3 separate regions of the Homo sapiens genome follow, and all the other regions are linked to region 2. The links come from fine-mapping of genetic effects on gene expression. A gene starts in region 2. Each other region holds a variant in brackets. All regions are shown on one strand. Distances are from middle to middle.

Region 1 (8,184 bases), 97 kb after region 2:
AGGTAGCATTAATACAGATGTTAAGTTTATAGTGTTTGTTTACACTAGAAGTATGTGAGAAGACACTAAAAGTTCAGAAATCTTAGAGAAATCTTTTCACCTGTGAAATCCAGTACAGCAAAGGTCTAGTGAATTCACATTCTAAACATTTTTTTCATCTCATTTACCATGTATAATAATACCTACTTGGCACTATTTTCTACTTGAATCATGAAAATGAAAAAAATATACTAAAGTCTTTGTACTCTCTTAGCATTTTCTGTATTCTAAACAATATATTTATACTTTCAGAATAGTATTAAGAATTAGTTTAAGTAACTCCAGCTAAGTTTTAAAAGGAAAAAGAAGACTGCACTGATTCCCTGAGGAGAAATTTATTTGCAGTTACTTAGATGATGTAAAAAGGTAAGGATTTACGGTTGTAACTTGGTGAAAGCACTTTTGTGATCTGTTATATGTTGTGGTTTTAAGGATGGCGTATATTACATTAATCTATAATCACCACATTGTTTTAAATTGTTTATTTTTTTTTTAAAGAAGTCTGTCTTCAGAGTACAACCAATGTGATTAATTGTGCCTTTAACAAAGTCATTCAATGTCTAAACAAATTCAGTATCTGAAACATCTTCATGAGGAAAACTGAAGGAAAGGAATTTAAAAACACAGACCAGGAAACAATCACAAAATATAGGTTTAATTACTACTTTTAAACTTAAAAAAAAATAAAAACCAAGAAAACAAACATAGGTACTCCAGTAAGACTTGCTACTCTGAATAATGTAACATTTTTTCTAAGTTCTATAAATATATACTGGAAGTTTTAGAACACATACAGACGCTTAGGAAAAGAAAGGCTAGTTCCTTGGAAATGACGATCCAGGATGATACAATCACTTGATGACAGAAGGTAAGCCTTTCTTACAATTAGATTTTAGCAGATAATTTTACCACTAATATAAATGGGTGATGTGTGGATCACAAGTTCTAGAAGGCGAATAAAAATACTGACTCCAGGTAATTTCTGGATACTACAAAAATGAAGTTTGCTTGTTTTTTTTAGAACCAAAAATACTATCTTGTAAGGTACAAAGAAAGCTTGATATTAAGTATGAAAACATAAGCATAACATTTGTAACTAATCACACCCATGAAAGACGACTAGATGACACCTGAAACATTTTTCAAAATACTGTAACACAGATGAGTAATATTAGTATAAATTTTTTATGTACATTAAGATCTGTTTCAGTTTGCTGGTGTGACCAAACCTTAGAAGGTAATCCCAAGGGATAAAGCAGAACATAAGAGCAGATATTTAGATATTAGTACAGGCTCAATTTGATGCAATCATAAACCTTCAAGATTTCTAGTCACTGAAACCCCATTGTAGGTAGTGTTCTGGAGTCTGCTATAAGTAAATCTTTAATGACTAGATGTTTTCCTTACCATCTACACTGAATGGAAATACCATGAATATAGACACATTTTAAGTAGAAGACTGACGTTCTAAATCATGCTGTTTGATTTTATAAAAAAATCATAATAGACCCTCTCACCTTTAAAAGTTGTAGAGGAGCTTTATAATAAATTCTTAAATATACTAATTTCTGTGATGTCTAGCAATTGAATAATTTAAACTTGAAAGAACTAAAATACTAATAACCATCTGCTTTATATTACACAAGGAAATATACACGTATGTACATAAAAAGTGAACTCCCTTCACAAATAAGTTCACAAAGGACTATGTGTAATGTGACTGGACATTCAACAACTAGACTAGCCGGTTGAAATCACATTTTCAGTCCTCTGTAATTGTGAAATTTTTTCTAATGCCTTGCAAAAACTACAGATAACTGATTAAGTTCATGTAGGTTCCTTATTGAAGATAAATTGTGGTATAAATTCTATACTCAAGTTACTGAACATGAGAGTTAGGTTTTTCCAAGTGATCTAACTTTTCCCTCTATAATCTATAAACCCCAAAATAACAATTTCTGTCAGAGAGAATCTGTAACAGAAGTGTTCTTGTGTGCTGAACAAAAAACTTCTAAATTGTTTACAATTCACTTACTATTTAACCCAAACAAGTTTAACAAGAATAAGTTTATACTGTTAGCCCCCAATGGTCATATATGATTAATAAACATTTTTTGTAAACTCAACTATATTCACACATCAAGAGTTGAGCCAGTGAGCTCAATCTTTAAAAAACTACACTTGTCTAAAGAAAGTCTTTTAGTGCTCACTTCGGCAGCACATATACTAAAATTAGAACAATACAGGGAAAATTAGCATGGCCCCTGTGCAAGGATGACACAAATTCATGAAGCGTTTCCATGTTTAAAATAATTTGAAAAGAAAGTATTTTAAACAAATCCAAGTAAAAATAAAATATCTACAAGTGTTTTCAAATCTAAGAAATGAAACATGTAAAGATTAAGAATTTACTGAATCTTAACAGAGTATTTCCCTTTGTGATATTGACAGAAGTTTCTCATAAAATGTATAAAACAGCATAAATGTTTGGTAGATTCACTAATAGTAGTCATACTTTTTTTTTTTTACTTAGTATTAGCATTTGTTGAAAAAATAAATGGCCAAAGTGCTTTAATTTTCATTTAGAATGAAATAATCTGGCTTACCTTTGACTAATTAAAGAAAATATAGGGTAATACAATTGTTCAAAATCTAACACAAATAGGAGCGTTTACTATTTTTGTCTGCTTTAAGATTTTAACTTGATCGAAAATACCAACATCCCCAAACAAAATTTACTGACCTGACATCAGCTTACTATAGACTGAATACACTTTCAACATCAGTCCTTAGCTACCTCAAATAATGACACAAAGTCTTAGTTTCTTTTGCATAAGGATCAAGATCAAGCTATTTTTAAAACAATTTAAATGGTCTCAAAACATTCTCCAACTTAAGTGCAAATTTGAGTACACATAATATTTCCAAAGAGTAGAACTGTTTTTAGATTATCTTTGGATTCTAATAACCATTTTGTCCATTTTTAAATAAATTACAAAAAATAACAGTTCAGTGTTTTTTTTCTTCAAATTTTCCTAGGCCTTTGTTATGGCAACACAATATATACTTAACAGGCCAGCTTGCAACCAGTACTCAGTACAAATCAAAGGATGATTGAAGCCTCCAATATGATTGAAGCCCTTGTAACCACAGCTCCCCCAAAGGCAGTTTACCCCTGCCATATAGGTCTAACACTGGGGGCAGTTTTACTCCTGCCATATAGGTCTAACATTGTGGGGTGCACCTCCAAACCTACCCAAAAATGGACATCAAGGGCATAAGCCGGCAGGCAGGAAGATCTGTTGATTGGAGAATCACTCCATGAGTTACAGAAGTAGATGAAAGCTGTGGGGGAATATAAATAAGACTGTAGAATTAGGGAGGTGGCAAGATTTAAGGAGATGCCTTAGGAAGGAGCCTCATACTTCTGAAATATAGATGTTAACTGGGTTGGGATAAAAGTAAAATCTCCAGCTTAATTTATCTATCTGATCAGGACCAGAAGTCCAAATTAAACCATGTCTCCAAAGTATAGTTGTGATTTTTACCTGATTAAAGGTGAAAGTCTAAACTTCTAGGCGTCTGCACATATGCAGACAAAAAAAATTACAGCAAACTAATACTTCAAATGAAATTTTAAATAATTAGTCCCCACATGCCACAGTTAAATCCCTGACAGTACTGTTAACATCAGATGATAGAATGAATCAGAAACAGATTTTATGTGTACCTTTCCATAGATAGTGAAGTCAAAGGAAAAAACTGCATCTATATCTAGGATTAAGAGGCCAAAACCAAAATATCTTCATGAACCTTTGACCGTAAGTTTCTGTTTTTGTGCTCTCATTTACTTGAAGTTATATTTTTTCTAATTTATTGACACTTATTTTTGTTTAGGCATGCCTACATTTTAAAAAATTGGTGATTAGTTTTGAAATTTAAAACTTCTAGAACCCTCACCAAGTTTTACTATTAAAACCCTTAGTATAAAAGATTTCTGTGATCCTTATAAGTAATGGAAATCCTACTACTTTCACAGCTTTTTAATTATATTTTTGAAATAATGGTCAGATGTACCACCTGATAAAGAAAATATAATATGATCTGGTTTCCCAAAATTGAAACATGGTTAATAAAAATAAAAAATTGCATTTACCAAAAATAGCCTGGAAAATTAAAAACAATGGTGAATTCTACGTTCTAAAGGGAAGCAAAAAACTGCATAGTAAGTAAGTTCAAATTGAAATTTTGGAAATTTTTGTCCTGTGCCCCATGCTGTTTATTAATTACCATATTTTAAAAACAACAACTATGTTACAAAGAAGAGGATTTATCATCCACTTTCTTCTTCCTTCAGGTCAGCTTAGCTTTCTTCTTAGCAGGTCCTTTATGCCCTTTGGCCTTTCTTCTTAAATTCCGCCTGTCTACCACAGGCACTTCCACTTCTATTTCCTCTGAGCTGCTATCCACAGCTTTTTCTGCCGATTGTGTAAACTGATCCAGTTGCTCGGAAGATGCTTCAGACTGCTCCTCTGACTGATTCTTCTGTCCTGCATTCTGTGAAAATGGCACGTCTTCAAGTTCAACCTCTATCAAAGAACTCTGAGGAAGAGCAGTAGATGTTTCCTGGGGCTCAGATACCCCCTCCTCACCCTGGTCTTCCAATGAGGAAGTAGTATTAGGAGACAAATTCTCAGAGACCGGTTCTTCGGAAAATTCAGCTATCACAGAGTTTGGAAAACCACCATCAGATCGTTCTTCATTTGACATAGTAGCAACATTGTCTGAACTCCCAAGATGTGCTTTCTTTCTTGGAAGTAGGGACAATTTCTCTT[C/T]CATGTGCCCCTTTTCATCAGATGTGCCTTCATCCATCAACATTTCTGAGTCAGGTATACGTGGGGTCTGAAAATTAAAAACCTGGTCAACAAATAAACTTGTACTACAGTTCTAAAAATAAATTCTCAGGCTCTAATATGCAGTGACACTGAACTAGAATTTAATTCGGTATTCATTACTCAAAATCGAGTATTTTTTTGAATTTCTGTTCTGCTATATGTGTATATATTCTGAATACAACTCAATTTCTTCAAAATTGTTTCACATGGTAATTTTAATACTAAGTTATTACTTTGAGGATATAATGAAATAATTATTTCATAATTAAGACACATTAAGCTTCATATCAAGATTCTTTAAAACCATGAATCAACTCAGTTTTTTTAGTTTCCTGGTGTTACTGGAGCCAGAACCAAAAATACCTTGGGACTTCACTGCGCTACCACACTACGTTTGACTACGATTTCATTAGATAAGTTAGGGCAATGGAAGTTTTATTCTTTTGCTTAGGTGAGACACTAATAATGCCATACAACAGTTTTTTAGCCATAAGTTGTAATATTCAAAAGTAACAAAATTAAATTTCTTTTAAAATACTCCAACAAGTTTTTTCCCCCACTAACCTAATCTGTCTGCCTAATTAAAACAAATATAAATTACTGTTTTGGTCATAGTCTATGTAACAAATATAGGTACTCAAATATTTGGTAAATAATGCTTTATCCAATTTTCTAAGCATTTCCTAACTACAAAGTATTAAAAGTAATAAAACTCATTTTGTTACCACATATCAGATATGAATAAGGTTATTATTTGAATTTATAGAATATTACTGATTTTCTTATAATATCAAATCTAGTATAAAAGTTAATCTTCCTAAAGCACTGTACATGTAAAGGTGGAAGCAAATATATATACCATGCACCCTCCTCGCTAATGTCACCAACATTGGTAAACTTTATTAAAAAATAGCTCATTGCCCCCTTACCTTATCTGGTGCATCTACCTCAGGGGGTTTTGAAGATTCTACCACCAGTGGAACAAGATTTGTAGAGTCTTCACTGGAATTAAAAGGCTGCAATTTTAATTCTTCATCTAAAACTTCACTAGTGGAGTCTTCCTCTTCTGTTATAAGTGAGGTCTTAAGAGAATCGTCCATTATCTCACCATTCATAGGCTCTAATTCAGATTCCTACACCATGAGGAGAGAGGGAAAAAGTAAGGACATGATTACAAACTAACTTATTTGTCATGCATGACGGGTCCCTTCTCAGTGCCTACCTATCCTACACCAAGACTCAAATTTACATTATAGGACATGGGTTAAAGAACAGTCTTACTGGGGGAAGGAGGAAACTCATAAGGCAATATCAGCAAAATAAAATAATCCTGAGTACCCCGTACTCCCACTGCTCTTAAGGAAAGATGGGGCAGGACCAGGATGCTCTGTGGACACACAGTATGGGTCGGAGATTCAATGAAAAGACCCTACCCACTTGTTGTTCCTCCTTCTTAGAGGGCAATCAGGGAAAGAACTTTTTCAGGAAAAAGGCACCAGACAGAGTATAGACTTGATGCTAGCTCTTTACATAACACCAGCTGTTCAGCATCTGGAATCTATGGGAAATTACAGTTTTCTGTGCCAGAGGTAGGAAGCACTACCAGTCTTATGGGAAGTTCAGTTTGGGTGCTGCATCTTGCTGGGAGGAGAGAGCCCTAGTCTCAGTCAACACCAGGGTCATTTCTGAACAGTCCTGCTCCTTGCATATCATTAAAGTATGGAAATGCTATTTGATAACATGAACTCTCCAATTTCTAAAATTCTCCCAATGTTTATCCATTTACTTCTATTTAATATCAAGTATTTCTAATCCTGACATTCTAATAATTAAGGGGAATTTTATTACCATTATTAAAATTATAAAACTGATGCATTCAAGTGTTCACAAATAGATTTGACTGTGTAGGACCCCTAAAAGCATATCAAGGAAATTTTTCCAAAAGAGAAATCACGGTTTTTAATTTTTCTATAGTAAAAAATTTATTAAATTGTTCTAAAATAAAAATTGTCTATAAAATATCTATTTTATTATATCATATGATACACAGAATAGAGTTCACACAGAAGGTAATATAAAGCTCATAAAAATGACCAGAGTCGAGAGACATATAATCTAGAGTTACTGGTCATTCCCATAGATAAAACAGTTGAAGTCATGAGATCGGATGTATTTTCAAAAAAGATAAAATGAACCAAAGTTCAGAAAATCAAGGACTTTTTCTAGAGTGTCCACAATAAGGGGGAAAAGGCAAGTAGGAGAAGAGTCAAAAAATAAAAATAATACTTCAGAGACAGAAAAAACAAGAAACCAGCATGGCCAATATGGTGAAACCCGCTCTCTACTAAAAATATAAAAATTAGCCAGGCATGGCGGCACTCGCCTGTAGTCCCAGCTACTTGGGAGGCTGAGGCAGAATAGCTTGAACCCAGGATGCAGAGGTAGCAGTGAGCCAGAGAGATCATGCCACTGCAGTCCAGCCAAGGGAGACAGAGCAAGACTCCGTCTCAAAAAAAAAAAAAAAAAAACAAGAAACCAAAGTGCAATAGTATTATAAAGTGAGGAGACTAGAGAACTTCAGGAAGAGAGGGTAATCAACCCAGGCTAAAAAAAAAAAAAAAAAAAAAAAAAATAGGCTGGGCCACGGTGGCTCACACCTGTAATCCCAGCACTTTGGGAGGCCGAGGCGGGCGGATCACAAGGTCAGGAGATCGAGACCATCCTGGCTAACATGGTGAAACTCCGTCTCTACTAAAAAATACAAAAAATTAGCCGGGCGTGGTGGCAGGCGCCTGTAGTCCCAGCTACTCGGGAGGCTGAGGCAGAAGAATGGCGTGAACCCGGGAGGCGGAGTTTGCAGTGAGCCAAGATCGCGCCACTGCACTCCAGCCTGAGCAACAGAGCAAGACTCCGTCTCAAAAAAAAAAAAAAAAAAATGAAAATGATAGTTGTCACTGTCACTGGTATATGTCTTATTGATGAAACAGGTTACATGAAGTATGTACAATATAATCTTAACTTTTTAAAAGTGAAAAAAAGGCCAGGCACCGTGGCTCACGCCTATAATCCCAGCACTTTGGAAGCCAAGGCAGGTGGATCACAAGGTCAGGAGTTCAAGACCAGCCTGGCCAAGATGGTGAAACCCCATCTCTACTAAAAATACAAAAATTAGCTGGGCATGGTGGCAGGCGCCTGTAATCCCAGGTACTCGGGAGGCTGAGGCAGAGAATTGCTTGAACCTGGGAGGTAG
Region 2 (8,184 bases):
ACTCGTTGTTGCCTCTCATTTTTCCCTTTTTGAACAGGAATGTTTACAGTGGTTATTTTACACCTGTCCACCACTGTATTTTTGTGTCGGGGAGGAGTGGGAGGCAGATAACTTGCATTTAGTTCACAGGTCTTCACACTAAGAGGAACTGTACTTGAAGAACTTTAAGGAACTGCATCCTAGGAATCTCACCCACACCTGGATGTAATTTATATGCTAACATTCTGGATTTCAAGCTGCTTTTCTAAAGGGATGAGATTTTTGGGGTTCTTGGGAGAAAGGGAATGTGTTTTGCATGGAAGAAATAGAAATAATTTGTGGTCAGAAAGTATACTCCTCCCTTCAAAAGGTGGAAGCTAATTCCCCTCCCCTTGAATGTGGGAAAAATAAAAGCAAGGGAAAAATAACAGCAGGTACACATGTTAGGATTCCATTTTGGGGATATTTAGCACACAGTGCACCCAGGTGGAGAAACTTGATTCAGATTCTGATTAGACTAGTAGGTTGATGGTCTTTAATTAAAGGTCTGATTTTACCCTATAGAAAGTAAAAATCCAGTGATGCATTTTAAGCAATGGTGTTACATGTTTAGAAAGGTCCTCAGGGAAACCAGATACCATACAAATGAATTCAGTGGAAACACATTTGCTGTAAATCCATAGTGGTCCACTTTTTCATATTTCAGTCATCTGGGGAAACTTTGTTTCAGCTCCATGTTGTTTCAATTCCATGCGTTAGCTTTAATTAGCTGTGGTATCGTGAGCAAACCATTTAGTTCTTCGGGGCCCTGGAGCCTCAACATAGTCCTCTAAAATGGGGACAATAAAACCTACCTCTTAAGTTGTTTGGGGATAAAATAAGAGGATGATAATAATATGTCTGGCACCTTGTTGTTGGTGAATAAGTTGTAGTGATTATTACTTAGACTAATGGAGCTCAACAAGGTGATATTTGGCAATATCTGGAGACATTTATGTTTTTTACCACTGAGGCTCAGGGGTTGGGGGTGGTGCTACTGACGACCAGTGAGTAGAGCCCAGTTGCTACTAAACATCACGTAATGCACAGGACAGCTCCCCAGAACAAAAAACCATCTAGCCAAAAATGTCACTAGTGCTGAGGTTGAGAAACCCTGATTTAAAATATAACCCAAGCTGGGTGTATTGGTATAGGCCTGTAGTACTAACTATTCAGGAGGCTGAGACATGATTGCTTGAGCCCAAGCCCAAGTCCACCCTGAGTAACATAGTGAGACCCCATTTCTAAAAAATAAAATCTAACCCAACCATGAGTATGTTAATATTGTTCCCGTGTTATAGCACCCTTTTAAATAATGAGTCAGAGTTAATAACGGGGTGCAATAAAAAAGAGATCTGATAGTTTCACAAGATCTCAGGGCTTGGTGAATGTAACTCCAAATCTTCCTGAAACCACCCTCCATCACCCTAATTCCTAAATGCCCACAGTCATTCCCACCGATAATTTATCTCTTCCTAGTCTTCTAGCCTTCAATTTCCTTGCATCTGAGATCCACTCTTAAACTCTTCGGTGACTTACTTCTAAGGAATATAATGTGGTAGCAGTGATGCATGTCACTTACAAGATTACGCTATATAAAGGCATTGTGGCTTCCTCTTTGCTGTCTTTCTCAGATCATTTGGTTGGGAGAAGCCAGCTGCTATATTGTGGGTATGGCAAGTAACTCAGGCTTTCAGCCAGTTGCCAGCAAGAAACTGAGATCTGTTGCCAACAGCCATGCAAGTTAACTTAGAAGTAGATCCTCCGGGGCTGGGTGCGGTGGCTCACGCCTGCAATCCCAGCACTTTGGGAGGCCGAGACGGGCAGATCATGAGATCAGGAGATCGAGACCATCCTGGCTAACACGGTGAAACCCCATCTCTACTAAAAATACAAAAAATTAGCCGGGCGTGGTGGCGGGCGCCTGTAGTCCCAGCTACGCCGGAGGCTGAGGCAGGAGAATGGCGTGAACCCGGGAGGCGGAGCTTGCAGTGAGCCGAGATGGCTCCACTGCGCCCCAGCCTGGGCGATAGAGCGAGACTCCGTCTCAAAAAAAACAAAACAAAACAAAAAAAAGAAGATCCTCCAGCACTAGCCAAGCCTAAAGAAAAAAACCTTCAGACAACTGCAACTTCATGAGATAATCTAATCCAGAATCACCCAGCTAAGACTCCTAAATTCCTGAACCACAAGAACTGTGAGATATTTATCTTATTATTTATCTGTTGTTGTTTTAAGCTCCTAAATCTTGGAGTAATTTGTGACACAGCAATAGATAGCTAGTATGCAATGTGAAGTTGTAATTAAGTATATAGTAATTGCAACAACATAAATTGATGATTGAATCTTGGAAACATTATGCCGTGCTTCCATTGACAGTAAAAAGTGGCAGTAAAGATGGATATTGCAAATTATATTTGTCTTAATTATAAGAATAGGGGAGAATAGTGTGCCACTGAAGTTTTCTTTTATGGAAGAATTTTAAACATGCACCATGTAGGGGTGGAAAGATGTGATACCTTTCCTCATCCATCATGAGTCATGGCTGACACTCTTATAACAAAAGAGCAGATTAACACAAGGAAAGCATAACAGATTTATTTAATCAGTTTTACATGACATGGGAGCCTTCAGAATGAAGGCTCAAAGACCCAGGAAAAGCTGCCTATTTTGATGTTTAGGTTTGATGCAGAGCAGACAGCCAGGCAGAAATGCGATTGGGCAAAAAGGATATGATCAACCTAATGGTAATAGAGAGGAGAAACCTGGCAAGATGTGTCTGTTCAAATTCTTCTTGGCCTCTCTGTGTGGTATTCCTTCCTCCAGGATACGGTGCAGGGCCACTCTGGAACAAAAGTCTTGAGAGCCACTATCAGACAAGGTAGGTCAGAGAACCTCTTTATGGCTGGCTCCTACAGAAAGACACGGCAAGATTAGAGTAATATTTCTAGATTTTATGACTGGCTTTGGGGGCATAGGGGCTCTAGTTTCTTCTTTTTTTTTTTTTCTTTCTGAGACAGAGTCTTACTCTGTGGCACAGGCTGGAGTGCAGTGGTGCAATCTCGGCTCACTGCAACCTCTGCCTCCCAGGTTCAAGTGATTCTTGTGCCTCAGCCACCCAAGTAGCTGGGATTACGGGCGTGTGCCAGCACATCCAGCTAATTTTTGTATTTTTAGTAGAGATGAGGTTTCACCATGTTGGCCAGGCTGGTCTCGAACTCCTGGCCTTAAGTGATCCACCTGCCTTGGCCTCCCAAAGTGCTGGGATTACAGGCGTGAGCCACCATGCCCAACAGTGGCTCTAGTTTCTGTGACCCATTTTGAAAAAGAGGAATTCTAGTTTCTATGGCTTGCTCTGGGGAAGAAAGGGGAGCAGGAGAAAGAAAGGCAGGAGAAGGTCAGAAAGATCTTCTGACTCTCTTTTCTTCAGTTCCAAGTATTCAACATGCCAAAGTGCCACACTTTGGGGTCTCATTTTCTGAGGCCCAATAATCATTACATTTCTTTTCTTTCTTTTTTTTTTTTTTTTAAGATGGAGTCTTGTTCTTGTTGCCCAGGCTGGAGTGCAGAGGTGTGATCTCAGCTCACTAAAACTTCCACCTTCCGGTTTCAAGCGATTCTCCTGCCTCAGGCTCCTGAGTAGCTGGGATTACAGGCGCCCGCCACCACGCCCAACTAATTTTTGTATTTTTAATAGAGACGGGGTTTCACTTTGGTGGCCAGGCTGGTCTCGAACTCCTGAACTTGTGATCCGCCCTCCTTCGCCTTCCAAAGTGCTGGGATTTCAGGCGTGAGCCGCCGCACCTGGCCTAATCATTACATTTCTTTGAAGTCTTTCCTTAAAGCTCTTCCACCCTCATTTTCAGAATACTTATATAGCAGATCTGTGGTTTTGGTCTGCCTAGCGTTTTCTCCTTCTGGTAAGAGAACACCTCTTCTCCCTTTGGCATCTCCAGTCCGTGTTCGTCATGTGACTTCACTGGCTCTTCCTTAGGGATGGGTTATGAAATCAAACTTGTCAGTTGGGATCCTTTATATCGGGACCCACACAGATGAGCCAAGATGTTCTCTCTCAGGATTCCTTGGGCATGCTCTGCCCCAGGGAGTTCTGATAGGAAGGCTTTATTGACCACAGCTGAAGTGCTGTTACAGAAAAGCCTAGACTTAGGAGCAAATAAACTCAGCTCTCATCTCGGTTATCTGGTGGTTGGGCTGAGAGGAGAAAGGTGCTCCTCAAGCTTGGCTTCTCCAGCTTCACCGAAGCCAGGGATCCACAGGAGAGCGCCCGTGTTGACAGCGTGAGCGGCGACCCGGTGTCGGCCTGGCGTCCCGAGCCTGTGCACTGGGCCGTTTTCTTTTTCTTTTCTTTTTTTTTTTTTTTTTTTTTGAGACGGAGTCTTGCTCTGTTACCCAGGCTGGAGTGCAGTGGTGCGATCTCGGCTCACTGCAACCTCCGCCTCCCGGGTTCAAGAGATTCTCCTGCCTCAGCCTCCCGAGTAGCTGGGACTACAGGCACCCGCCATCATGCTCGGCTAATTTTTGTATTTTTGTAGAGTCGGGGTTTCACCAATTTGGCCAGGCTGGTCTTGAACTCCTGACCTCAGGTGATCCGCCCGCCTCGGCCTCCCAAAGTGCTGGGGCTACAGGCGTGAGCCACCACGTACGGCCAGCACCGGGCATTTTTCTTACTTTAGCCATCCCGTGTTTGAGGTTGCTGTCTGGGCTCTGCTCCTACCCGAGGGCACCCCTGGAGGAAATTCTCGAGGTGACCTGGACAGGGCGGGCTGGGCGAGGACGCTCCCGGGGCCTGGAGGCGGAGTCGGGGGCGGGCGCGCGCAGTCATCTGACTCGGTGACTCACCCGCGGCCGCGCTTCCTCTGATCCGGGCCGGGCGGGAAGTCGGGTCCCGAGGCTCCGGCTCGGCAGACCGGGCGGAAAGCAGCCGAGCGGCCATGGAGCTGTGCGGGCTGGGGCTGCCCCGGCCGCCCATGCTGCTGGCGCTGCTGTTGGCGACACTGCTGGCGGCGATGTTGGCGCTGCTGACTCAGGTGGCGCTGGTGGTGCAGGTGGCGGAGGCGGCTCGGGCCCCGAGCGTCTCGGCCAAGCCGGGGCCGGCGCTGTGGCCCCTGCCGCTCTTGGTGAAGATGACCCCGAACCTGCTGCATCTCGCCCCGGAGAACTTCTACATCAGCCACAGCCCCAATTCCACGGCGGGCCCCTCCTGCACCCTGCTGGAGGAAGCGTTTCGACGGTGAGCGCTCCCGGCCCGGCCGGGAGTTGTCCTGGGGGAGGGGAGAGGCGGACCACCCCGGAGCGCTGTGCAGACCCTCACCACCCCACTGCGCAGACGAGAAACCGCCTGGGAGCTGGCAGGCGATCTGCCCAGCGCCACATGGACTGAACCCACGCTCTTGCCCCCACCCTCCTACTGCTTCTTAAGGGACACCTTGGGTGCTCAGGAACCCTGGTTTGAGAGCCGGATAGTAAGTGGAAGAGGGAGTTTGCTCTGAGGCCTTGTTGGGCAAATGGCATGGACGGAGGGGACACCGGAGCTGGGGAGGAAAGTGACAGCTCCTTATTTGAAGGACGTGCAAAGGGATAAGTTACCCGAAGGGCTTAGACAAGCTCTCTTGAGGGACCAGGAATCCCCCAAAGCTGACTGTCATTTATAGGCCAGTTTCGCCCCCTCACCTCTCCTCACATCTCCTGGTAACAGCTCAAATGGCAGAAGTCCTCAGTTTCGAGCACTGCCTAAAACTGCCCTCTCTCCTAAAATCTCTTCCATATAAAATGTGACATGTTTGCATCTGACTACGTTTCTGCGGTCAGTGGTTAGGCAGTATCCAACTTTGTTTCTCAACACCGATCATGTTGCCTGCTCTCCCTGCTTCCTCTTTTACAGACCCCTAGATAGCGCCTCTGTCTCTCTCACCCTTTGGCTGCAGACAGGGTGAGTTTTGTCATGGGAGTCAGCCAATCACACCATAGACAAGGCAGGTTCCCCTGGGGAGATGTTTGAAGACGCCACACACTGTCCCCTCAGTGTGAGACCTGTGTAGGTGGGACTGTCCTGAAGGCGTATCGTGCCCTGCAGAATTGTAATTTGGTGCTAACTGTACTGCCTCCTGGCATTCCCCAAGCCTGTCGCTGTACCCAGTGGATACTATAGAGCTTAAGTGTGCTTGCAGGACCCTGAACAGGTGGGGAGGGAATGTCAAACTAACTGAATAATGTGTTCTGACCCCAGATAGGACAGGTGCCTAGGCTCAAGCTGCAGAGGCCCAAGATGCTGATGGCAGAAATGGTTCATTCTCTACAATCAGAAGGCTCATGGTTTCCTTCTGTTTTGTACAACTAAATGGGTATTATCAGTCTCTATTTTAGACACACACACTAATGAGCCTTTGGTATCCAATCTGCTAAGGCCAGAGTGGGGTTAAGATGTAGAACCAAAGTGTTTGGTTGCATTGGGATATTCAGAAAGATTGCATGGAAAGTACATGAAGGTTGTCTCAGAAGATCATGACTAGGGTTGGAAATCTTTTTAAAAACAAACACGCTTATTATGTTTGCCTTGGAGTTCAGCTTGTAGAATTGGATTTTCCTTCTGTGTCATACTGCTAAGTAAAACAAGGACTTGGTAATATGCTGAACTGACTGTGACAAGAAAGCATGGGTGATGTAAGTTAACAATAGGTAGATAACCAGGACTTAAATCAGCTGAGATGGTTCGAAGGCAAGGCTTGGTATTTCAAGGCATGTGCGGGTGATTACCTGAAGAGTTTGCCTAACTCATGGCCTCTGAGTGAAGCAGCCATTAATTATGCCTGGTATTATTAGGAAGCAGGTCATAAAATGTGTTGGCCCTTATGGCTAAGACTTGAAGGCATGCATGTGAGCATTCTAGGAACTCAGAAGGAGCAGCAGGTATCTCAGAGTAAAAGCACAGTGGAGTTGGAAAGATTTGGAAATATGGGAGTGTTCACAAAGTGCGACGTGGTCAGGAACACACAGTCTAGGCCCCAGATTGTTCAGCATCACATAGCCCCTGTCTCTGAAGAGCCCAGGTTGTATCACAAACCTTGCTTTGAAACAGTATGCTTTTTGCAGGCAGAGAGTTTGGCTGTTAGATGCATAGCTGCTTCTTTAGCTTCTAGAACAGCGTTCATCACATGCTAGTCACTCATTTTTAAAAATAAACAAATAGCTTCACTCCTTCATTTCCTGGAAGGCTAAACTAACCCACATACCTTTGACATACTGCCTCACAGCCCTTTGAGTTTTCTGTTAGAATTTTACTACCTAGGGTCAAGGTTCTAAGCCAGCTTCCAACTCTGATCTCAAAGCTGCCAGCAGCTTTAATTTCTTTTTTAAAAAAATTTTAATTAAGGAAAAAATACACATAACATAAAATTTACCATCTTAACCTTTTGTAAGTATGTATTTCGGTGGTCTTAATTTCCTTTTTAATCTGTCAGGGTTTTCCTATGAGAAGGGCCCTCAACACCTACATCCATTCCATTCTCTCATTGGTTAACTTCCATACACTTCCAAACATGTCAGAATTTTCCGACCTCTTCTGCAAAAAAGCATAAGACGTTCTTACACATAAGTAGCATATATAACCTTCTGGCTTACCAAAATCTGTAAAATATTATTTAAACAGTTGCCCTGAAGCCTATCTGATCTTTTTTATTTAGTGCCTTTACATTTTTATTTAATATTCTGATTTTTGGATACCAAAAACAATTGCTCTGAAGCCTGTCTGATCTTTTTTATTTAATGCCTTTACATAATTTTTATTTAATGCCTTTACAGAATTTTTATGTATTTAACATTTAATGCCTTTACAATATTTAATGCCTTTACAGAATTTTTATTTAATATTCTCTGATTTTTGGATACCAACAAAAGGTACTTTTTTTGTATTTAATATTAATATTAATATTTAATGCCTTTACAATATTTAATGCCTTTACAGAATTTTTATTTAATATTCTCTGATTTTTGGATACCAACAAAAGGTACTTTTTTTTTTTTTGAGATGGAGTCTCGTTCTGTCACCCAGGCTGGAGTGCAGTGGTGCGATCTTGGCTCACTGCTGCAACCTCCACCTCCCGGGTCCAAGCAGTTCTCCTGCCTCAGCCTCCTGAGTAGCTGGGATTA
Region 3 (8,184 bases), 53 kb before region 2:
ACTTGTTATATTCCCAGCTATGAATAACCCATAAATGAGGAATTTTGTCTTGCTTAAAGAGATACTCTAATGGTCAGGAAGTTTTATTTAATATGCAAAATTACCTTTGTAAATATCACTAAATGGTGAAATAAAACACGTTCGGAATATCTGAAATGATCCTTCTTTGGATAAACGAGAAAAGGCACACGTTTACAATGCCTCAAATTGTGTCTTATTCAAATGAAGACCCACACACATAATGAAGAGAAAATCTCTAATAATTTATTGACCTTCAGTTTCACATTGTGAAAAAAAAAAAAATAACAGTTTTACAAAACCTCAAAATGTAGTCATAGCAAACAAGTACATATGAACATGAACATTTTCCTTCAACTTATACAGAGTTTTGTACGTGAACCACATGGTCAATAGCCAAGAGAGGGACATTATGCAGCTCTAATCACTCTTATTCAAGACAGGTGTCAAGCCCAAAGAAAAGGGGCTACACAATTATACCAGAAGTGGAGGGCTGCCCTTTGTTATGTGTTTCTACAGCAACCAGCCCACAAAATAAGAAGAACCTTCTCTGTCTTATGCCAAGGTTTTTGTGTGTACTGTGCTGTGAATTGTATTTGCTTCAAAGTGTGGGACGTTTCACAGGGTGAGAATGGTCAAGTAGTGAGACCAAATGCCTATATCGATTCAAAGAGTGGGAGTCCAGAAAGTTCCCTACAGGCTGGGGGCCCAACCCTTACCACAGCTCCCTCTGGCTCACACACAGTAATTAATAGAGGATTCAAGAACAGACCCCAACTTTGAAACAGCTGCAGAAAATTCATCCTGCTTTCAGAAGCCATGCAGTGACACATACATCTCTCTTGGCAGATTTGCATCATAAACTACAGAGCTGTAACTGCTACAATATAAACGACACTGACTATGCCCACTGGGGGACAATTAGACATTTGCATTGCTTAGAACACATCTAGGAACCAGGGACTGACTGCTGGAAAGTACTGTGATTCTTTTCTTCCAACAGCTCATTTATTTAGGCCCAACTACAGCCCACTCATTCATGGCATGGACGGACAAACACAATTAGTCTAAAGTACTAAGGTGGAGAGAAATGTTAAGGATTTATCTGTCATTAGACAATGCAAACACAGTCACAATGTAAAAGGTTGTTATCAGTCTTAACCCCTATTTTCTAAAATACAGCAATGTGAGAAACATGGACGAAAGCAGTTCGAGTTGCAAACTTTGGTCTTCCCCTGCACCTCAGGGGAAGCACCTATCTGAGACTAGCACTAATACCTACGACGGCACATGCTTAGTAAACAAGCACTCCAACTAGCAAAGAATGTATTCACAACTGATTTCCAACTCTACCGGAAAACTTCTCAATAGGGGCCACTGCCTACAATTCTTTGGTGTTTTGTGGCCAAATGTGTTACTTGTGCACCAAAGAGTTTTTTAAAAAGAGATTTGCCTACGGGTGAGCACTGAAGTATACATTGTGCCAATGTAATTATTGTCTTGGAGACCTTCTAGAACTTGCTAAATCATATAGCAAGAAGAGAATGAGTTCAGGCCCAGTAAATCTGGTGAGTTAATTTACATCTGTGATACTGCCGTTTTTCCCATTAAATGTGGTTATGGCAAAGCATTCTTAGGGTAATAAATAAATAAATAAACTTTGGACAATGCCTTTACTTGTGCCCTATATACAGAACTATTCCATAGAATTTTCCAGGATTTCAAGATACTACACAAAGAAAAAAACTGTAAAGCAATTTGGTCCTTTCCAAATTTCAGCAGCTGAGACTGAATTAAGTAAATCAGATGGGAGTGGGGAGAAGGGCAGAAAGCAGCCTCCCCTTACCCTATCAGCACAACCAAACCCCATGAAATCCCATTAAAAGTTGGTGAGTCTGAGAAAAGCGATCTCCACGGTTTCTCTACCTCTAGGATGTCATTTAAATTTCCATTTTGTCATCCTTCCCTGTCTTGACATTTTAAAAATCCACCCCTCCCCAACCCACCCTCCAGTTATGCTCCAAATTGTAACTCAAAAATTTTCATGTTTGTGCAGCAAAGCACATCTCAACAGCCACAAAATGTGCAAAACGTACAACCATTCACACACGTCCATACATGTGAAGACAGCTGTAGGCATTGTTTCAGCATGCAGGCATCGAACAATAAATAGCTAAATCTATAACAAACTTCTTAACAGCCAAGGGAAAGTTTAAAGTCACTTATAAATAGAAAAGAACATCTACCAAATGGCTACCAACAAAGTCCCCATTGTTCAGAAACGTTCCTGGGGAGCAGACCCCTTAGAGATTAACGGAGAGTCCAGTGGTCTTCATTCTTCAGCCAGCCCAGCCAGCTTCCCTCTCGGACCCACAGTTGGGCTTTGAATCTCCAGCAGCAGCTGGTGTGGAGGCTTCAAGCTCTGTCCTCAGAGAGAGGTGACAACCATTTCAAATTCTACACATAAATGGTGGGGCCCATGGAAATCAAATGCTGAATATGGTACAGCAAGGGAAAAGGTCCAGCTTTTCTCTCCCTTTGAGGGGCTGATTAACATTGACATTAATCCACAATTACAAGACAAGGACTAGATCACAGGTTTGTTCATTCATATTTAAACCATGTGCTACTTGCACCAAAAATCCCACCCCCCTCCCTCGCCCCTTTCCTTCATGTCCAGTTAGAGCATTTACAAGGTGCAGCAGATTTTATTCGAGTCTTGCAACTTCTTTTCCTTTTTTTCTCTTCATTAGACTTGGCCTCTCCGAAGTAGAAATCTCATATTATCTCATCGAGTGATGGAGTGAGCTGAAATAGAAGGAAAAGGAAAAAAAACAAAACAAAAAAGCATGAAGGATTTGTGTGATGCCATAGTTTTTAAATTTTTCTTATTAGCCACAAAATTTTTTTTTAAATTAAACTTGGTATGGAGCTGGACAATATTGCTTCCAAAGGTCTTACATGTTCAGTAGGAACTGTGCAAAGATATTTAAAGTACTTGCCTTAAATGCACACACGTGTGCACGTACACATCCATGCAGATGGCTGGCCTGACAAAAACAGTGGTGTCTAAAGAAGGACCTTCACTTCTTTCCTAAGCATACACACTTTCAAATCCAAACCTATATGTCTAGATGCTATTAGGAGTTGCCATCTTCTGCTTCCAACATTCATAAAATTTCTTTCTGTGGTTAAACAGAGCGACTGTAAAGTGATCACTAAGGGGTGAAAAGAAGGGAGATTCCTGTGCAAACCCTCCTTGGCCCATGTACCATGAAAGATTCCAAATTAACTTTACCATCTAGGAGGCAGACATACTAATCCTCTTATTTAAATGCATCTCTGTTATCCATTATGGCAGAAATCAGTCTCGCTTCCTTTCACATGACAATGTATCAGGCCTCAACAGCCCAAGTTTGGAGTTTATTCTCAAAGTTCGTCAGTCCACACGTAGGTGCCAGCAGCTACGGCATGCCAGTGCTACAGAATCTACGTACATCAAGTGTGAATATCAATTCAAAGTGCCGTAACCACAAAGCCTGCACATTTCATAGAGCTTGCATTTCCTCACACTGCTTACTCTTCCCATTTATTTATTTCTCATTTCATCTGGGGAAATTGTGCAGAGGGCTTTTGTATCCCTATTGCTGTAAGTCTAAGTACAGACAAAGGGAATTCTGGAGGAGCCACTCATGACCTTGCACTGAATTCTTTGCTTTTGTGTGTTCAGAAGCCTGATTCATTTCATGAGTTGTTTCTTTTGGCTGTTTCCTAACAGTGATTCAAGCTTTCAAGGCATGCCTTAGACTACGGTGTCATTGCCCCACCTCCACCTCCTTGTAACCTATATGTCAACATTAGGC[CA/C]AAAGAATGTATCTTATAATAATATAAAATTTCAAGACAATGCATATTCAAACAGGAAAAAAGGAATACACACACCCTCCCCCCAAAAAATTGCATATTCAAACAGGAACGATAATAAAAAAAAAAAGGACACACAACAACAACAACAACAACAAAATCTAGAGAAGAAACAAAGCAAATCAAAGCCTAAGTTAGGTTGAGGCCACACGGCACCATGAAAACAGAGGATAATCAAAGTAATTTCCTTTCTGCCCTTCCCACCCACTGGCAGAGCAGCAGGAGGCAGATAAAACCTCCTAGGTGGATGAGCTTTAAGACCTAGGGAAACTTTCTGTTAAACACTCTATTAATTCCGTTAGCACCTACATTTGGAGGGCAGAGGAATTTGCAGTTTGGGACTGAGACCCACCTACCCAGCACTTTAAGGCACTCCAACCCCCTCTTAAATGTTTTAGCACTATCTTGTGTAGTAAACTTTAGAAATTTTAACCAACATTCTCCCTGTCGGAAATTCAAAGAGTGGCTTTGATCAGGCGCTTACGCTGCCCTTTAAAAGCAGCAAACTTGGCCCTGTCAAATTTAGTTTTCATGTGCTTGACTCTCTCACTGGTAGCGCCAAGGGTGAAGAGGATGTTATTTCACATATAACTTAACACTTTACTTGCTCTGTTTCCCAGCGACCGGAAGGGTATGATTCAGTTCAAACACCCAGGGTAGGGTGAAGTCAAGTGTTTGCCAACATGTTCACTCTGGGCTGAAAAAGGAGGAACCAAAAGTGAAGTCTAAAGATAACAAGCAGATAATAGTCAAAGAAACCTCATTTTCCTACCACACAGAAAGCTAATTCCACTGCCATTATCTCACAGTAAGTTACTACACGTCAAGCACTGGGCTAGGTATTTTCGCCTCTTTTAACTCCCCTATCAATTGACCCAAGTCTGAGTTGGGACAGATCACAGGAGATTAAAGATCAAACCACTCATTTGACAGAGAAGCAACCTAAAACTCAGGAAGGTCTAGAACTTAAAACTAGGGCCAGAATACACATGTGGCTTCTCTCCTCTTTCTGCCTCAATTTCCTTACCTTGTTCCAAGGATTCCAGCCAGCCTGCCCATTGTCATTTTTTATGTACCACCACCCTGGTAGCAATTTTTATGGCTCTTCTGTGCAAATATAGTCAGTTCTGGACTAACACCCAACTAAGTGTGCTGTTAATTGATGCTTTCGCCTAGGAGGTTCTTTAAACCTGCTTTAGAGGTGAGTCATGCATTCATATCTCAAATGAAATAACCACTTTCAGAGCATTTGTTTATTCAAGATTACTGAGATGCCAGCAAGGCTACAAAAAACCAGTTTGGTGTGAGACACTATTAGCCCAGTTGCTCCCCAGAGGAGGTGTCTGATTGTTCCTGCTGCTTTGAAGGAGTTTCATTCCAGGAAAGCATGACATAACTCAGAACTCTGATAACTGTACGAAGGCTGGAAGAGATAACTGAAGAAGTAAAAAAAATAGCAAGCTGGAGGCCAAGTGCGGTGGCTCACGCCTGTAATCCCAGCACTTTGGGAGGCTGAGATGGGTGGATCACTTGAGGTCAGGAGTTCAAGACCAGCTTTACCAACATGGTGAAACCCCATCTCTACTAAAAATACAAAAAAGCCCGACGTGGTGGCGGGCACTGTAATCCCAGCTACTTGGAAGGCTGAGGCAGGAGAATCCCTTGAACCCAGGAGGCGGAGGTTGCAGCGAGCTGAGATAGCACCATTGCACCCCAGCCTGGGAAATAGAATAAGACTCTGTCTCAAAAAGAAAATAAAATGGCAAGCTGAAATGTGAGAGTGAGGCCAAGTTTAATGATGTTTCTAAATGAGCTGTAAGGGACAGGGAAAGAAAAGACCAATGAGATGAAACCCCTCTGTGCTTAGCTTGCCACTAGGCCTAGATCTCCTTTTCTCCCTTTGAAGTCCCCTTCAAAGGTGTGAAACATACTAGGGAAAACAGAGCCAAAAGTTCCCAAGTAAATGAGTTTGTTTTCATTGTAGTTCCTCCAAAGCAGTTACTTTCTTCTCTTATTATTAGTAATAAGCCCATGAATCACCAAAACAAGTCAACACATCCTGTGTGCGCTGGGCTATACTTACACATGCCTAAGCGATTCCTGGGGCCAATCCTAAGAATGCTTAGCAGCAAAGCAGCCGTGAGCTTTGCGAACTCTGAACTGTGTAGGCCTATTAATTATTTGAGCCAAGAGTATTCTATACTCTTAAATACACAGACAACTATTATGTACTCAGATATATGACTCAGAAACACAACTTTTGTTAGCCTTGACAATAGGGTCGGCCTGACTGATTAACTCTGAAAGGCCATAGTTTGGGAAGTTTAGGTGGCTCTGTGTTATCTGCACAAATTTCTGCTATGTACATGCAACCTTTTACAAAGACAGATATAGATTTATCTTTAAAGGTAATAAACGCCTTAAAGGGGGCTACTTTTTAAGTAAAACATTTAAAATAAGCTAATAATTTTGGAGAGAATAAACTAGGAATGAATTTGAGCAATACATTTTTAAACCCTAATCATTCTACAAAGGGTTTGAGGAAGCAAAATTTGAATATAAATGAAGTATCACCTGGGATGACATTGGTGTCATGGATGTGAAGCTCAAGTTTATTCGGTGGCAGTGCAACACGATGCTCCAGTGCTGATGCCCTAGAGCCAGACCCCCTGCATTGACTTCCTAACCAGCTCCACCTCTTACTAAGCTCTGCTAACTCGGGCAGCTTAGCCTCCGTAATGCATGAAGGTTTTTTCATCTATAAAATGAAGCTAGTAATAATTCCCCACGGGGTTGTTGTGAGGATAGAATGAGATGATCCGTGGGAAACACGTGGCACCGCTGCAAGCACACAGTGAGGGCTCAATAAACATTAGCTGGCATACTTAACAGAGGTCAGGGGTTCTCAACTTGGTTGTTCATTGGAATCATCCGGAAACTTTTTAAAAATACTGATGCTTGGACCCCACCCCAGACCAAATGAAACTAAGTCTCTGGGATGGGCAGTTTTTAAAAAAGCTCTTCAGGGCCGGGTGCGGTGGCTTATGCCTGTAATCCCAGCACTTTGTGAGGCCGAGGCGGGCGGATCATGAGGTCAGGAGATCAAGACCATCCTGGCCAACATGGTGAAACCCCGTCTCTACTAAAAATACAAAAAATTAGCTAGGCCTGGTGGTGGGCGCCTGTATCCCAGCTATTCGGGAGGCTGAGGCAGGAGAATGGTGTGAACCCAGGAGGCGGAGCTTGCAGTGAGCCAAGATCATGCCACTGCACTCTAGCCTGGGTGACAGAGCGAGACTCTGTCTCAAATAATAATAATAATAATAAAATAAATAAAAAGCTCTTCAGGAGATTCTGAGGCTCAGTAAAAGCTGAGAACCACTGGCTAATGCCATGGTGGGGGCTGAGGCTGTGGTCAACACAAGTGGATAAGTTCTAGGGGCACCAGCTCTCTTATTTTTACAGCTTTGGTAGTACTTCTGCAGTACAGTCTCTGTGGATCAGATCTCACCCCATGTACTGAACTTACACAATAGCCTAATTATATGCATACTTACATCTATAGCTAAACTTCTTACCTCATGCTCACTCTCTTTAGAATGTACTGCATTTAAGAAGGCAGATGTTTCCAGGTGCTGACAAATGCAGTAGGAATCAGCGAGTACGGGACAGTGGTGATGCTGTTCCACACGTCTAATGTTGGATCGTAGCAGTCCAAAGTCTTGCATCGCTGAATGCCAAAGTATCCTCCAACCACGTAGAGTTTGTTTCCAGAGGCCACAGCATGGCAGCTCATGCGCTTTGCTGTCACATCTCCCACCTTGGTCCACTGGTAAGTCTCACTGTTGAATTTATAAGCAGAGCAGGCAGAGAATTCTGTATCACCCCCCATAATAAAAATCTGGTTCCCCAGCACAGCTGCTGCTGTGTAACGCCAGGGCTGGGGACAGGTGGCCGGTACAGTCCACCTGTTTTCACACTGATCGTAACACTGAACTTTGGGGAGCTTGTCATGACTGACACTGGTACCTCCGAAAGCAAATAACTTAAGTTTGGCACTCACTACTGCGGCGTTGCTAACGCCTTCTCGGAGTGGGGCCACCATGGTCCATTTGTTGATTGTGGGGTCATAATGTTCTACCTGCTTTAGAGAGACTGAGGGGGAGGCCGGGAGGCAGCCAGTTGCGGCCGTGTGCCCCCCAACCACATACAGGCAGTGCTTCAGTTCAGCAGAGCCATGGCCAA

Evidence for each region. PIP is the estimated chance that this variant, and not a neighbour inherited with it, causes the effect. A credible set is the group of variants that fine-mapping cannot tell apart.
Region 1: its variant is the best candidate, but not a certain one, in a credible set for the expression of HEXB in whole blood (TOPMed, PIP 0.79).
Region 3: its variant is the best candidate, but not a certain one, in a credible set for the expression of HEXB in whole blood (TOPMed, PIP 0.52).

The regions. Positions count from the first base shown.
Region 1 is chr5:74,777,068-74,785,251 of GRCh38, forward strand. It overlaps NSA2 (NSA2 ribosome biogenesis factor), which reads left to right. Exons shown (of 6, transcript NM_014886.6): 6 at 1-3,046. It overlaps FAM169A (family with sequence similarity 169 member A), which reads right to left. Exons shown (of 13, transcript NM_001376049.1): 12 at 5,864-6,067; 13 at 507-4,941. The coding sequence ends at 4,393. It also overlaps the pseudogene RNU6-1330P. Among named protein-coding and RNA genes, the nearest start is that of NSA2, 14 kb to the left of the region's middle. The variant C/T (reference allele first, on the strand shown) is at 4,875.
Region 2 is chr5:74,680,291-74,688,474 of GRCh38, forward strand. HEXB (hexosaminidase subunit beta) reads left to right here and starts at 4,943. Exons shown (of 14, transcript NM_000521.4): 1 at 4,943-5,269. The coding sequence starts at 4,971. RefSeq lists a silencer at 4,631-4,970 and enhancers at 4,655-5,155, 5,661-5,710, 5,771-5,820, 5,831-5,920.
Region 3 is chr5:74,627,167-74,635,350 of GRCh38, forward strand. ENC1 (ectodermal-neural cortex 1) reads right to left here. Exons shown (of 3, transcript NM_003633.4): 2 at 7,518-8,184; 3 at 243-2,826. The coding sequence ends at 7,550. Among named protein-coding and RNA genes, the nearest start is that of ENC1, 9.5 kb to the right of the region's middle. RefSeq lists an enhancer at 3,743-4,556. The variant CA/C (reference allele first, on the strand shown) is at 3,882.